Linked DNA regions of Homo sapiens: region 1 is linked to region 2. The links come from fine-mapping of genetic effects on gene expression. A gene starts in region 2. The other region holds a variant in brackets. All regions are shown on one strand. Distances are between the middles of the regions. Region 1 has its middle 54 kb from the start of SYPL1. Region 2 holds the start of SYPL1 (synaptophysin like 1).

Region 1 (5,373 bases), 54 kb before region 2:
CCGCTTCTCTTAGGATTCTTTTCCTCCTTCTCTTTGCCTGAAGTCTTCTAATGGCACCCAGAAGCCTTCTTCCTCCCTCTTGTGGCAGTCGGAGTAGAAGGGCTTTGGGGTTTTGCAATACCCCCAGAGTTCTTGGGAACTTTTGGGTCCATGTGGGTATTGGTTGGGAGGCTCAGGGCCCAAGCAGGAGGCTCTGTCCCACCCCATGGCTGCAGCTCACGCCTATGGAGCAGGGACAGCTTCAGTCCTGCTCTGTGAAGGCAAGAAAGCCAGGAGCCTCAGAAAAGCTATGGATGTGAGGGAAGCAGGGGGCCCCAGCTTCGTCATTCCGCATCGTTTTCTCCTTTAAGGGGACAAAAGTGAGAAGACTTCCCAGCGATTCATTCGCTCCTCCATCCTGCAAGGAAGCAGAGCCACAGTTGCCCCACCAGGAAGAAGCAACTTGAGGCCGGGTGCGGTGGCACACACCTGTAGGTCAGGAGTTTGAGACCAGCCTGGCCAACATAATGAAACCCTGTCTCTACTAAAAATACAAAAATTAGCTGGGCGTGGTGGCGGCCACCTGTAATCCCAACTACTCGGGAGGCTGAGGCAGGAGAATCACTTGAACCCAGGAGACGGAGGTTGCAGTGAGCTGAGATTGCACCACTGTACTCCAGCCTGGGTGACAGAGCAAGACTCCATCTCAAAAAAATAATAAATAAAAATAAAGAAGCAATTTGAGGGATACTTTTGTTGCTGTTAGCCACTGAGTTTTTTTTTTTTTTTTTTTTTTTAACAGTCTCATACTGTTGCCCAGGCTGGAGTGCAGTGGCATGATCTCAGCAACCTCCACCTCCCAGGTTCAAGTGATTCTCCTTGCCTCAGCCTCCCAAGTAGTTGGGATTACAGCTGCCTGCCACCACACCCGGCTAATTTATTTAGTATTTTTAGTAGAGATAGGGTTTCACTATGTTGGCCAGGCTGGTCTTGAACTTCTGACCTCAGGTGATCCATCCATCCCAGCCTCCCAAAGTGCTGGGATTACAGGCATGAGACACCACGCCCGGCCTAGCCACTGAGATTTTTGAGGCTATTTGTTATTGCAGCAAAACTTAATGAGAGCTTACTACTACACCCTCTCATCTTCCTCAATCTCTCCTCAAAGCTGCCTCAAAATTTAAAAAATTCTTTTATATACTCATGTGATACTTTCTCGCTTTAGGCCAAGTGAAAATAAAGGCATCTTCATAAACATTTGCTTTTTTTCTTGGTTCATGATATGACTGTACAAACTGCACTTGTGTATACGGCTTTAAACCCAGACTTCAGGCAGGGGGAACAGTCAGTGCAAAGGCCCCCAAGGCAGGGACGTCAGGAGTCCATGTGGCTTGGTCAGAGTAAGAAGGTGGGAGAGTGGTAGGGAGTGAGGCTCATGGAGTGAGAGGTGGGCAGTGTGGACCTGAGCATGGGCCCCAGAGAAGGTGCAGTTTCAGGACAGAAGCACAAGGTGGCACCGTGACACTCCCCTCAGTCACTGTGGACCGCATGTGCGGTGGTAGAGAAGACACATCTTCTTATCCTCCAAAATGGCTCTGCCAGGGAATGAAAGTCCAGCCGACTCCAGCAAATTAGAAACTGTACTCTTAGGACTGGAAAAGCTTTCGAGACCTCTCAATCAGGGAGGTTTCCATGTGGGGTCCATGATGCCTATGCATGGACTCCAGGACCCAGGGGATCCCCTGAATTGCAGTGTGCTTTTCAGGAGAAACCTCCAACATTTTCACTCCAAGGGGTCTATGACCCAAAAAAGGTGAAGAACCTCTGACTACCACTGGTGCTCCCACCAAGGCCAGACTTGACAAGAACTTCCTCAGCAACAGGCAGCCCCGGCCAATTCCACATTATTACCAGGTGCCTGGAGACCTGTGAGTCCTTTGCTATCTCAGTGGAGGCACCCAGTAATGCTTGGAACCGCTGGGCCTGAGGACACTCGGGCTCTCCTTCCAGAAACTAGAGCTTTTGTGAGGGGCCAGCAAATTTGCATACGTGCACCCGTGCACACACGCACACACCCCTCTCTCCACTGTCTTTAGATTGAAGAAATCACATCTTCTGCACATGAACGTCCTGTTGGTTCTCAAAGGTGCCTGGATGTTTCTGTGATAAGTAAAATATGATTGCACAATGTGGTTACTGAATTTGCAGTCACTTTGATCATTATATAGTTTCTCACCCACTGGATGTTTTATAGAAGTCTAATATAGAATTGATCTAATTGAAGTTTAATATATATTCGACTCTATGTGTCCAATATAATGAATGGGGCAGGGAGTCTGTCAGATATTTTGAGCTAAATGAGAAACTTCATAATCAAAATGGTGGGAGCCACAGTCTGGTGAAAGGGAGGGGTCGTGAGTGATGTCTGATGGCCAACAGGTGAGCTGGGACGGCGCAGGGGGCGCGGTGGGGGCAGGACAGGAAGCTGCGTGGGCAGCAGGTGGAGGGTGTGAGCAGAAGTGAGACTGGAGCCTGTGGGGTTGCTCAAGTGGAACTGCAGAAGGAGATCAAGAATGAGGGAAGATGCAAATTTTTAATTCAGCATCTTCTAAAAAAAAGTCCCAGAAATGACTGTATTTGCTATTGGTGTTTTAAAATATCCATTAAATACCACATTTGCCAGCATCACTTCTCTTATCCCGGCTGCTCTAGCAGCCTGAATTCTGCCTTTTTCTTCCCTGAGAGCTGGGCTCAGGGAACCCGCGTATCGACCTCAGGGGGTCAGGCCTGCAGGTGGGTGGCTCCCCTGGGACTCTTTAAAACCAAACCCCGAGCAGAAAGGAGAGGCTGAGGTTTGGGGCTCCTTTAAAGGCCTCCTCTCAGCTTGTCTCCAGTTCACTGCCTAAGAATGTCCTCCAGACACAGGCTCTGAGGCCAGAGCTATTGAATATTTATCAAGGCCTCCTGGCAGACGTGGGAGACTGAGAACAGGAAAATCAGGCCCAGGCGGGCATCTGTGGAGCCTGCCTGGGTGCTAGCCAGATGCTGCAAGATTCAAGTTGCCCGTTGACTCTGCAGAGCCTGCCCCGCCCTGTCCTCCCTCCTCGGGGAGGCGTGCATGGGCCTGGCTGCTGTCAGGGTGTTTGCTTCTTGTCACCATCCTCCATACTGACTTCCATTGCAAGCCCTGCCCCACTGTGGCTCCATTGTCTGCAGTGGCCTGGGCTGACCAGCTCAGCCTGGAGCCCTGCCCTGGGAC[G/A]ATGCGGGCTAACACAGTGACACAAAGCCCTGCTTTGTGGCCCTGACAGGAGGATTTATCATTAGCTGTGAGATGGTCCCTGGCAGATCCTGGCATGTGGTGAGCAGACAGATCTGTGCTGATCACAGTATTTTGAGTACCCCCAGTTGAATACAGCATCTGGGGCCCTCAAATCTGCCACATGGATCTTATGGCTTCAGGCTCACTGGCACCTTTTGTGTTGGCCGAAGTACGGGTAGGGGGTAGATTAGGAGCACTAGCTTGTACCCAGTGACGTCTGGGGGCTGGTTTACAGGAAAGGCACCCTAAGGTTGTGCAGGCCCTGACATGTGGTCCTCCTGGCATCTGGGGACAGCATGTCAGGTTTGGGGTCTGCCCATCCTTGCCTTGGGCACAGGTCCCCAAACAACAGCAGCATCCCTGTGGGTGGGATATCTGACCAGCAGAAAATGGAAGTGAATATCTCTTTGATCTTGGAGTGAGGAAGAATTTCTTAAAAATAACACACCAAAAAATCACAAATCATAAAAAAGAAAGATTCATGATTTCAACCACGTTAAATTTAAGAACCTTGGTTCATCACAGGTATTTTAAAGAAACTCAGAAGATAAGCCACAAGCTGGGAAAAGATATGTGTAGCACTTAAGTGACAAAGGATTAGCTTCAAGAATATATCGAGTCCTGAATGCCTGGTGGGGTGGAGGGAGTGGGAAATAGACAGATAGTTCAGAAGAAAAATGGGAAAAAAATATGAATAGGCATTTGACAGAAGAGGCAACACATAGGGCCAGTCAACATAGGGATGTGCTAACCTAGTCAGTGTCCAGGAAATTGCAAAACAGGCAGTGAGATCCATTTCCTCCAGTCTGTTTCCTCCAGTCTCTCTCCGGGGCCTGGAGATGCTCCTTGGATGGTTCTCAGTGGCCCTGGTCCTCTCCCTGGGAAGCCTGGCCTGTCAGGCTCTGCAGAGCCCTCTGTTTTGTCCTTCCCCCAATATCCTCCCACTCAGAGCCTGAGTCTGCCCCTGCCCCTTCCCTTCCTGTCCTCACCAATGGCGAGTGTGGCAGATCCTCCAGTTTCTAGAAACACCTCCTCACTCCATCTTCATCCTTTCCTTTGATGTTTCCCCAGGTCTTATCCGGCCAGGTGGGCTTTAGGGAACATTTTTCTTCCCCCTTTGAAGCCAGGGTCTCGCTCTGTTGCCCAGGCTGGAGTGCAGTGGCACAATCTCGGCTCACTGCAGCCTCCGCCTCCCAGGTTCCAGCAATTCTTCTGCCTCAGCCTCCCAAGTAGCTGGGATTACAGGCATGCGCCACCACGCCTGGGTAATTTTTGTATTTTTAGTAGAGACGGGGTTTTGCCATGTTGGCCAGGCTGGTCTTGGACTCCTGACCTCAGGTGATCCACCCACCTCGGCCTCCCAAAGTGCTAGGATTACAGGCATGAGCCACTGCACCCGGCCTAGAGAGCATATTTTCAATCAGAAAAGTAGTTCGCTGCACCTCACAAGCCCAACACTGAGTTCCAGGAGGACCTCAGGACAGGCTATTGATGGTACGGTAAACATGGCTGACAACTAGCACGTTCTAGACCAAGTTCAGGTAGAAAGGGACTCCCTCAGCTGGCCACAAAGCTACCCTCTCCCTAGTGTGCAGCCTTATCAGGCTATTGTCCAAGGCAAAAGCTGTGTGTAACAAGCAGCCCACGCAGCCTGCAGCCAGGTCTGCCAAGGCACCTTTCCTAAGGGGCTGCCCATGTGGCCCGCTCACGCAGGATCTTGCTGGCACTCTTCCTTGGGAGCTTACCTTGTTTGGAAACCTTTCCTGGTTAGCCTTTAAGAGCCTCAACAGGCAGCTGAAAGCATGTCCTGAAATGCCTGAACTCATACTTGGAATGAGAACTAGCTACAGCTTAGTATGCCATGAACGTTTGCATCACTTGTTGTCCAATAAATCTGCGGTCCCCAACCTTTCTGGCACCAGGGACCAGTTTCATGGAAGACAATTTTTCCATGAACAAGGAGGATGGGGTGGTTTTGGGATGAAACTGTTCCACCTCAGATCATCAGGCATTAGATTCTCATAAGGAGTGCACAACCTAGATCCCTCGCATGCACCGTTCGCAGTAGGGTTTGT
Region 2 (5,373 bases):
AATTGGAGGGAGAAATCGATTGATTGAGGAATTATGAGTGCCTAAAATTAGTCGTATCATTGACTTGTTTAAAGCCTTTAAGTTCCCATCCCCTATGGCAGGGATTCTGGGCTTGAATGGAATAAACACTCCAATATTCCATACCCTGCACATATGCATTTTCCTAAGGAAAGGGCCCAGATTCCCAAAGATTAACCCCAGAAGCAGCCGACCTCTGAAATCTTTTCAGAACAATCTCAAACCGTACCCTCCAACCTAGCATATATTCCAACTAACCCCCAATTACTTTTAAGTTCTCATACAGGGTTATGCTGCTTCAACATTTCCTTCCACTGAACATAAGATTCCTTCTGCCTAGAAAGCCACTCCCCAAGTGAACCAGTACCCATCCTTCAAGTGTTCTCTCAGCTATGAAGTCCTCCCTAGTTCCTCCAAGCAAATGCTCTCTCCCTCATTTCTTCTACTATTCTTTGCATACACCTTTATCACAGTTTATTACATGGCATTTTTGTATTTTGTATGTCCTTCATCCTTAATAGATCATGAGAAAAAGACCATGTTTTATTCATGTGGTATGCTAGTGTTTAGTACAGATCTGGTATAAAATAGTCAAATATTTACCACACCATTAACAATGTGTAGTCTTTTCATAAAAGGCTCTCCTGTGTAATAACAAGCTGTTCAAACTGAAAGTATTTCTGTAAGATGCTTAAAAAGGGATATTTTTCAAAATACATCAAAACACGAATGAACTTATCACTAGTGCTTGAAATATTAAGGAAAAAGCTAAGTCTACAGTTGTTTAAAAACTTGACAAAAAATATAAGCACAGATATAAACAACTGCCTCTTCATTTAAGTGGAAATCTAAATTATTAGTTATACATTTAATTATAATCCTCAATGAGACTAAATCTAGATATAAGACTTTCTTAACGTTCATATTTGATTAGCCTCGTTAATGAGATTTTCCTCTTGCAATTTTTAAATGCTTTAATCATGGTTTTCTTTATACTTAAATCTGGACTTAGGTTTAAAAAAATCAAGTATATTTATTTATGCGTCTTTCAAGTAGTCATTTGTGTGAAGTCAGCACTACTTCAGTTTTCAGAAAACACACAAAATGTTCAGTGAATGGTGAAATTGCCTAACCCCTTGCGCGGTTACAATGGTCCAAGTAGGAAATCACATTAGGTACCCATCAGAGAAACTGAGTTTCTACGCTGCTTTTAAAAACATCCTCGGTAGGTTATTTAGAACAGGAAATTGAAAGTTCTTATTCTTCTTCACCACTCTATCACTAAGGAAAAGGGCGAAAAAGCTATGGATGTAAATGCTGCTGTCTATAAACACAACTTGCCTGCAGAAATATGTAGTGGGCCGCGAAGTTTGAAGGAAGCCCGCAGTGCCTGGTATATTCACCAACTCCTCCAAGTAACTGATCATTGCCAAGGTCGAATTAATAAGCGTTCTTTGATGTTAATGATTGTGAGTGTTCTCAGGAAAGGACTAAAAGCTGACTTTCTAAACAGGATGTTGTTTGGAAATACCCCAAACAAACTCGATGTCCATTCCTAACGTGTTATTAAGTGAACCGATCTGACTCGATGCGTTTTGTTAAAAGGACTTTCTTTAGTTTCCCTGGCCCACAGTTTATTTTTTTACTATTTTTAACTCGGAGCCCATCTTAAAAACAAATTAAGAACGGAATGCTCGCCAAATCACGTCTACAAGACAAAATCGGCTTCCCAGGGAGCTAGACCTCGAGTGGGCACCGGCAGGGACGTAACCGCTGAGCCTCTCCGCAGAGCGCGACGCCGGCCGCCGGGTTTCGGTTAGACCGCAGCAGGAAGTTTTCCCTTCCTCTGCGGGAGGCAGTGGAGCCAAGGGGAAATTTGAACTCCCACTCCACGGGGACACCCAGAGGGGAGCTCCGGTGTGGGAGGGTGGCTCCCCTGGGAGCCAGGCGGCCGAGGAGCTCGTGATTCGACGCCCGCCGCGGCGTCTCCGCCCCGCGCGGCCCAGGCCGCGGCCTCCCTGCCCTCCCTGCCGTCCACTCCCAGTCCCGGGGCGGCGGCCTCAAAGCCCGCGCGGCAGGGCTGCGTCCCGGCTCGCAGGTCCCCGTCTCCCCGCCTAGGGCGCCGCGCCGAGCGGCAGGCGGGCCTGGCCGGCGCGGGCTGCACTCACCCACTCGAGGACCTTGATGAAGCCGAGTGGCTCCTTGAGCGGGTTGAGGTTGATCTGGAAGCCGGACATCCTCTGAGGAAAGGAGGGAGAGAGAGTCAGGACGACGGGGCGGAGGAGGGGACCGACGAGACCAGAGCAGCCCGGTGGCGAGGAAGGGCAGGCGGGGCTGGCGCGCTGGCCGGGCTCGGAGGCGGGCCCGGGCGGCCGTGGGGCGGGGCGGGGCGGAGCGGCGGCGGTTGAGCTGCTGGCTGAGACTCTGGGGCGGAAACGGAGTGGGGCGGCTGGGGAGGCGAGGGGCGGGCCGGGGCGGAGACCGGGAGGCTTCTCCTCAGGCCGCACCTGGCCGAGTCGACTGATCCGCTGGCGAACCAAGTAGATGTTGGGCGCCATACTGCGTGCGCCGCGCCCCCTTCCCTGCGGTTCAGCCCCTGGCACTCGGTCTTCCCCTGCGCACGCGTGTACGCGTGCGCTCGTTGGGCCCGCGCCGCGCTTCCGGACCCGCGCGACTGCGAAGAGCCCTGACCCGGGGGCGCCCACGCCCGCTCCTGCGCAGCTTGGGGGCGCTGGCCTCAGAGACACCCTCACTTGACCCCGAGCTCACCACAGCTGAGCTCACTACACCGAAGCTGACCTCTCCTTCCCTTAACAGATCTCAACTTTTTTATGAATTTATAATGTATTGGCACAGATGAAGTTGTGTTTCAAGGCATGTGTTAGGGGCCTTTGATTAAAATTGCAAAACAACAGACTTCTGGCTACCGTGCTGTGGGGTGCCTCGAAAGTGTGAATCACCAAATATTCGTATGGAAATTAGGTTTATTTTCAAAGTTACCATCGCAGCCATGGTTGAAAAATGAAGTAAGTTTATACCTAAAAGGAAAGGCGTGGCCGGACAGGCCCTCGGTGACCTACACTTTCACCTCTTCTACGCTGTCGGTCGACAGTCCTCTTTTTAAGGCATCGTTGGTATCTTTCTTCAAGAAGCTGACCCCTTTAAGATTCGGCTTAGGTGATACTTTCCTCTTGGCACGCAGTTACGGGAGCCCCAAGGTAGTGTGATCTCCTTCCTGGCTTCTTCAGTACCTGGAAAGTTCCTGGACAGCTGGAATGTGGTCATATTCGTGTATATGAAAAACCAGCTTCCAAGGACTTACCTGAATTTCAAGCACGAATATGATTTGCAGGCTACTTGCCACTGAGGTTATTCCGTCAGGGTTGACAACTGTTATTGAACGTCCTTGTAGTAAGCGAACCCTTTCTCTTTCGAGACCTATCTCCTTGTTTGCTGTCCAGAGAGTGCAAAAAATACATTTCATTTTCTATGCAGACAGAGACAATCTTTATGTTTATCTTGGCTCCCGTTCCTCAGTCCCCAGCACAGTCAGTGCTCAATGAGCACCTAATGGCATATCTCATTTTGAAATAACATTAAGAACTGGGCGCGGTGGCTCACGCCTGTAATCCCAGCACTTTGGGAGGCCGAGGCCGGCGGATCGTGAGGTCAGGAGTTCAAGACCAACCTGGCTAACATGGTGAAACCCCGTCTCTTATAAAGATACCAAAAAAATTAGCCTGACGTGGTAGCACGCGCCTGTCATCCCAGCTACTCAGGAGGCTGAGGCAGGAGAATCGCTTGAACCGGGAGGTGGGGGGGTTGCAGCGGGTTCCTAATGGATGGTTGCAGATTTCTCCCACTAAGCAACAAAGCATCATAGATACCCCTTAGGGCTAGGTGAGTGGAAGGTGACCATACACTGCTACCTGGTGCGTCTGAGACCACGATGAGCGGTGCTCCAGGTCTTCCAGCTTCCTCTCTCTCCTTTTTTTTCTACTTTGTTTCTGTATCTTCCTCTCAGTACTTCTCTTTTTGTTCTCTTTAGCCCGTTTTTCTAAGCTTTTACTCTCATTCTGTTGCGGTCTTCTGGGTAGGCACCTGGGGACGGAGTAGTGAATAGTAAGACTATTTAGCTTGAGCTTCATATTCACGAATATTCAAATTAGACTCTTAATGTTATTATTATTATTTTTTTTTTTTGAGACAGAGTCTTGCCCCGTCACCCAGGCTGGAGTGCAATGGCGTGATCTCAGCTCACTGCAACCTCTGCACCCCCGGGTTCAAGCGATTCTCCTGCCTCAGCCTCCCGAGTAGCTGGGATTACAGGCACGTACCACCACGTCCGGCTAATTTTTTTGTATCTTTATTAGAGACGGGGTTTCACCATGTTGGCCAGGTTGGTCTTGAACTCCTGACCTCATGATCCGCCACCTCGGCCTCCCAAAGTGCTGGGATTACAGGCGTGAGCCACCGCGCCCAGCTCTTAATGTTATTTCAAAATGAGATATGCCTTGACAGATTAGAGATATGTTCACATGCAGCTTTATTAATTAAAGATCTAAAACATACCATGACTTAGTAAACCAATATTGGCATCTCTTCTTCTTTTTGTTTATTGAAGGCCTTAGAAATTGGAATTGGCCAGGCCCTTTCTCAACTTCCGCGCTAAACTTTCTGTTGCTTCTGTCTGCCTCTCCTCACTTTCTCTCCTGCTTCTTGTTCAAGCCCACCAGTGGAAGGCATGGTGGTTACATTTCCTCAGGAAACCTTCAGTGCTAGAGTAACTCCTTGAACTTTAAGAAGGTTCCTTCCTTGGCCCTGTGGCACTCGATTTTAAAGATGGAGACCACCGAGGGTGAGCAGAACCACATCTGGTCACTTATCAGAACTCATTCGCAGAATCTCTCTTGAGCAGAAGGAAACAGAAGTGAGCCGCCACTGCTCACCTTCAGTCACAGCCTAGCACTGCTTCTGCCAGTCAGCTGAGCTCAGGGGCCTACCTTCCTGAGAAGGAACTGGCCGTGACTGGCAGAGCCAGTGAGATCTGATTGGGCAACAAGATAATTGTGATTTTTTTTTAAATCCTCCTCAAACAAAAGTGTTTAAACAATAGCATCTCATTGAAGGCACAACTGTTCAAAATCAGGGAAGAATGTTCAGATGACTGTATCACATTGACTACAACACTGGTCATTTTCTGATTTGTTCCTCAAATCTGAGGAAAGAGCCAGATGCTCTGGGAACAACATGTTCCAGGTCTACTCTACCAGGGCTATTTGGAAAAGAATCCCTGTAATATAAAATGGTTCTGTCTATCTGAGGTAGTATTATTGAGCTTTATCTGTGGTGGTA

The links.
Region 1: its variant is fine-mapped to the expression of SYPL1 in tibial nerve (GTEx, PIP 0.96).

The regions. Positions count from the first base shown.
Region 1 is chr7:106,055,627-106,060,999 of GRCh38, forward strand. No RefSeq gene overlaps it. Among named protein-coding and RNA genes, the nearest start is that of SYPL1, 54 kb to the right of the region's middle. RefSeq lists enhancers at 1,159-1,208, 1,719-1,768, 2,614-3,165, 2,849-3,008, 3,039-3,138 and a silencer at 3,479-3,598. The variant G/A (reference allele first, on the strand shown) is at 3,239.
Region 2 is chr7:106,109,954-106,115,326 of GRCh38, forward strand. SYPL1 (synaptophysin like 1) reads right to left here and starts at 2,359. Exons shown (of 5, transcript NM_182715.4): 1 at 2,187-2,359. The coding sequence starts at 2,255. RefSeq lists an enhancer at 1,589-2,421 and silencers at 1,877-2,126, 2,137-2,626, 2,707-2,766.